Linked DNA regions of Homo sapiens: region 2 is linked to region 1. Evidence: fine-mapped expression QTL. Tissue or cell type: whole blood. Region 1 holds a variant in brackets; the other region holds the start of a gene. All regions are shown on one strand. Distances are from middle to middle.

Evidence for each region. PIP is the estimated chance that this variant, and not a neighbour inherited with it, causes the effect.
Region 2: EFHC2 starts here. The variant in region 1 is fine-mapped to the expression of EFHC2 in whole blood (TOPMed, PIP above 0.99).

The regions. Positions count from the first base shown.
Region 1 is chrX:44,253,324-44,256,167 of GRCh38, reverse strand. The region is part of intron 4 of EFHC2 (EF-hand domain containing 2); the gene reads left to right. Among named protein-coding and RNA genes, the nearest start is that of EFHC2, 89 kb to the left of the region's middle. RefSeq lists enhancers at 1,850-2,702, 2,703-2,844. The variant A/G (reference allele first, on the strand shown) is at 1,411.
Region 2 is chrX:44,342,352-44,344,851 of GRCh38, reverse strand. It overlaps EFHC2 (EF-hand domain containing 2), which reads left to right and starts at 1,180. Exons shown (of 15, transcript NM_025184.4): 1 at 1,180-1,305. The coding sequence starts at 1,264.

The DNA of each region.
Region 1 (2,844 bases):
TAGTGCTTATAAGCACTAAATATATAAATTTGCCTCTAAACACTGCTTTAGTTGTGTCCCAGAGATTCTGGTATGTTGTGTCTTTGTTGTCATTTGTTTCAAAGAACTTATTTATTTCTGCCTTAATTTTGTTATTTACCCAGTAGTCATTCAGGAGCAGGTTGTTCAGTTTGCATGCAATTGTGCGGTTTTGAGTGAGTTTCTTAATCCTGAGTTCTAAGTTGATTGCTCTGTGGTCTGAGAGACTGTTTGTTATGATTTCCGTTCTTTTGCATTTGCTGAGGAGTGTTTTACTTCCCATTATGTGGTCAACTTTAGAATAAATGTGATGTGGTGCTGAGAAGAATGTATACTCTGTTGATTTGGGGTGGAGAGTTCTGTAGATGTCTATTAGGTCCACTTGGTCCAGAGCTGAGTTCAAGTCCTGAATATCCTTGTTAATTTTCTGTCTCGTTGATCTGTCTAATATTGACAGTGGGGTGTTAAAGTCTTTCATTATTATTGTGTGGGAGTCTAAATCTCTCTGTAGGTCTCTAAGGACTTGCTTTATGAATCTGGGTGCTCCTGTATTGGGTGCATATATATTTAGTATAGTTGGCTCTTCTTGTTGCATTGATCTCTTTACCATTATGAAATGCCCTTCTTTGTCTTTTTTGATCTTTGTTGGTTTAAAGTCTGTTTTATCAGAGACTAGGATAGAAACCCCTGCTTTTTTTTGCTTTCCATTTTTTTGGTAAATATTCCTCCCTCCCTTTATTTTGAGCTTATGTGTGTCTTTGCATGTGAGATGGGTCTCCTGAATACAGCACACTGATGTGTCTTGACCCTTTATCCAATTTGCCAGTCTGTGTCTTTTAATTGGGACATTTAGCCTGTTTACATTTAAGGTTAATATTGTTATGTGTGAATTTGATCCTGTCATTATGATGCTAGCTGATTATTTTGCCCATTAATTGATGCAGTTTCTTCATAGCATCAATGGTCTTTATAATTTGGTATGTTTTTGCAGCAGCTGGTACTGATTTTTCCTTTCCACATTTAGTGCTTCCTTCAGGAGCTCTTGTAAGGCAGGCCTGGTGATGACAAAATCTTTCAGCATTTGCTTATCTGTAAAGGATTTTATTTCCCCCTTGCTTGTGAAGCTTAGTTTGGCTGGATATGAAATTCTGGGTTGAAAATTCTTTTCTTTAAGGATGTTGAATATTGGCCCCCACTCTCTTGTGGCTTGTAGGGTTTCTGCAGAGAGGTCTCCTGTTAGTCTGATGGGCTTCCCTTTGTGGGTAACCCGACCTTTCTCTCTGGCTGCCCTTGACACTTTTTCCTTCATTTCAACCTTGGTGAATCTGACAATTATGTGTCTTGGGGTTGCTCTTCTTGAGAAGTATCTTTGTGGTTTCCTCTGTATTTCCT[A/G]AATTTGAATGTTGGCCTGTCTTGCTAGGTTGGGGAAGTTCTCCTGGATAATATGCTGAAGTGTGTTTTCCAACTTGGTTCCATTCTCCCTATCACTTTCAGGTACACCAATCAAACGTACGTTTGGTCTTTTCACATAGTCCCGTATTTCTTGGAGGCTTTGTTTGTTCCTTTTCATTCTTTCTTCTCTAATCTTGTCTTCACGCTTTATTTCATTAAGTTGATCTTCCATCTCTGATATCCTTTCTTCTGCTTAATCGATTCAGCTATTGATACTTGTGTATGCTTCACAAAGCTCTCGTGCTGTGTTTTTCAGCTCCATCAGGTCATTTATGTTCTTCTCTAAACTGGTTATTCTAGTTAGCAATTCCTCTAACCTTTTTTCAAGGTTCTTAGCTTCCTTGCATTGGGTTAAAACATGCTCCTTTAGCTCAGAGGAGTTAGTTATTACCCACCTTCTGAAGCCTACTTCTGTCAATTCATCAAACTCATTCTCCGTCCAGTTTTGTTCTCTTGCTGGCGAGGAGTTGTGATCCTTCGGAGGAGAAGAGGTGTTCTGGTTTTTTGGAATTTTCAGCCTTTTTGTGCTGGTTTTTCTTCATCTTTGTGGATTTATCTACCTTTGGTCTTTGATGTTGTTGACCTTCGGATGGAGTTTTCATTTGGACATCCTTTTTGTTGATGTTGATGCTATTCCTTTCTGTTTGTTAGTTTTCCTTCTAATAGTCAGGCTTCTCTGCTGCAGGTCTGCTGGAGTTTCCTGGAAGTCCAATCCAGACCTTGTTTGCCTTGGTATCACCAGTGGAGGCTGCAGAACAGCAAAGATTGCTACCTGTTCCTTCCTCTGGAAGCTTCGTCCCAGAGGGGCACCCTCCAGATGCCAGTCGGAGGTCTCCTTTAAGAGGTGTCAACCCCTGCTGGGAGGTGTCTCCTAGCAGGAGGCACAGGGGTCAGGGACACACTTGAGGAGGCAATCTGTCCTTTAGCAGAGCTCGAGCACTGTGCTGGGAGGTCTGCTGCTCTCTTTAGAGCTGGCAGGAGGAACGTTTAAGTCTGCTGAAGCTGTGCCCACAGCCACCCCTTCCCCCATGTTCTGTGTCCCAGGAAGATGGGAGTTTTATCTATAAGCCTGTGACTGGGGCTGCTGCCTTTCTTTCATAGATGCCTTACCCAGAGAGGAGGAATCTAGAGAGGTAGTCTGGCTACAAAATCATTGCTGAGCTGTGGTGGACTCCGCCCAGTTACAACTTCCTGGCAGCTTTGTTTACACTGTGAGGGGAAAACCGCCTACACAAGCCTCAGTAATGGGGGACGCCCCTCCCCCCACCAAGCTCCAGCGTCCCAGATCGACTTCAGACTGCTGTGCTGGCAGCGAGAATTTCAAGCCATCGGTCTTAGCTTGCTGGGGGGATCCACTGAGCTAGACCACTTGGC
Region 2 (2,500 bases), 89 kb before region 1:
CTGCCAGTGGTTTCTCAGAGCTGGAGTAGATGGAGGAGGGGGCAAAGAAAGGGATGGAGGGCATTGGTAGGTGCCCTCTGACAAAAGCTCCTCAGACCAGGCTATAAGGAGTTTCACCACCTTCTGAAGGCGGCGGGAAGGCTAGATTATTGAAGCAGAAGAGTAACAGCTGCACCATGAATTATAAAAACGACGGCTCTGGAGGCAAGATCAGTTAGTTTTTTGTGTGTGTTTGTTTTTCTTTTTAAAGAAGAAAACCAGGCAAGAAACAATGGGATCGCAGCTGAAATAGACGAGGTGGTGACTGAGAGAGAGCATCGAGTCCAACCTTTAGGGCTTCAGGGAGGGATTAGACGTAGGTGTCGGGAGAGGAGGTTCCTGGCCCGGCTATCTTGGGGTGAACGATGGAGTGACAGGGGTTGCGATTTGTGACACCTGACTCCGCCCCGGCCACCCCTGATTGGGCCTTACAAACGTTTAGTTCAAATACAAAAATGGGCCGGACACGGTGGCTCATACCTGTAATCCCAGCACTTTGGGAGGCAGAGGCGGGAGGGCTGCTTGAGCCCAGGAGTTCGAGATCGGCCTGGGCAACATAGTGAGACCTTGTCTTAAAACAACAAACAAACAAACAAACAACAAATATAAAAATATCCAGAAGAAAAACTGAAGGCGGTGGTTACCATTACAACGCGTTTTCGTCAGGGTATATGTGGCTTTAGATTCATCTTGAACGTTTTAATTACAAAATAAAAGCTGATGTCTATGCAACATAGGAAAATATCGACTTGTGTAACATCTCAGTGAGCACACGGGCGTCATATTACTTTCTGTACTTTGCTGTGTGTTTGAACCACATAGCAAAAAACTGTTGGCGACAAGAATTGGAAAAGCAAGAAAGTACAAGAAAGGCTTTGAGTTCTATAAGGGGGTTAAACCAGAAAGCGGCGGGGGCAGGGAACAGTCAATCTTTGTGTGTGCACACTGCGTGTGCAGAGAGAAGACTCCTCAGGAGACCAGGACCTGGCTGAGTGTGTGCGGGGATGAAGCGGGTGGAGGGGAACTGGGGCTGGGGAGGAGGTACGCGCCGCGGAGGTGTCCCCCGCCCCCCACGATCCTTCTCGCCAACCCCCCGCCCCTCCTCCCTCCGTGACGCCGCTTCCCGTCTCCAGGCAACGTGGGGGCCAAACAACACGGCCGGGAGGCGCCGCTGCCTGCCGGGCCCTCTCTTCTGGGACCCTGGATTTTCGGACACTGAGCGCCATGGCCCTGCCTCTGCTGCCGGGCAACAGCTTCAACCGCAACGTGAGTAGGAAGGGCGTCCGAGGTCACAGCTCCCGGCTGGAGTCTGGGGTCCAGGCAGGGTCGTGGCGTGGCCACCTCCGCAGACTCTCCTGGAGGCCCCATGCTGCTGCCCTGGGTTGGTGGCAACTTGGACCAAACTTTATAGGCTGCTTCTCCCATCTCTCCAGCTGCATCTGAATGTTTTTCCTAATTTAGAAATATATAGAGAGAGTCCTTATAGGTGGCAGGACCCTCAAAGGTAACAAATAATAGTGACGATAACCATTGGGGGTTTAATGTGTGCCAGGCGCTGTGCTTTAATCACCTTATGCAGCATCCAGTGTCCCAACAGCCCTTTGAATTAGGTAGTTTTTATTCCCAGTTACTATTGAGGAAACTGAGGCACAGAACCACACAGTCTCAGTGGTGAAGCTGGGTTTCTTTCAAGCAACCTTGTCTCCACAGCTCAGGAGCCTAATCATTATCCCCAGTATCCTGTGTGAAAAAAGATACCGTTTCAATTATCAAATTGAAGAAATCTGGCACTTATCAAGAGGGGTAGGTGGCAGATAAGAGTTCTATCAGCCTGTAAAGTTTACTCCCAAACTTTATAGAGACAGGCACCCAAACTTGGAGGGATTTTTTTTTTCTCTATTTATAATTGGGAGGGGTTCATTTCTTTTTTTTTTTTTGAGACGGAGTCTCGCTCTGTCGCCCAGGCTGGAGTGCAGTGACCCGATCTCGGCTCACTGCAACCTCCACCTCCCAGGTTCAAGCGATTCTCCTGCCTCAGCCTCCCGAGTAGCTGGGATTACAGGCGCCCGCCACCACACCGGCTAATTTTTGTATTTTTAGTAAAGATGGGGTTTCACCATGTTGGCCAGGCTGGCCTCGGACTCCTGACCTCAAGTGATCTGCCCGCCTCGGTCTCCCAAAGTGCTGGGATTACAGGCTGAGCCACTGCGCCTGTCCTGGAGGGGTTCATTTCAAAAGAAGATGAACGTACAGAACAAAGCAACACAACACAAAAAACCCTGAGCATGAAAGAACTTTTGCCAATAAATAGCACCTCATTTAAACGACAGCAGGAAAATGATTCAGGCTTTTGTTTATACTGGTTACTACCCTTCACTTGGGTCAGCCATCTGTGTCTGCAGGAGAAGCTAATTCCCAATTAGATGGGAGGGAATTAGATGGAGCCACTCAAGGCAATTGT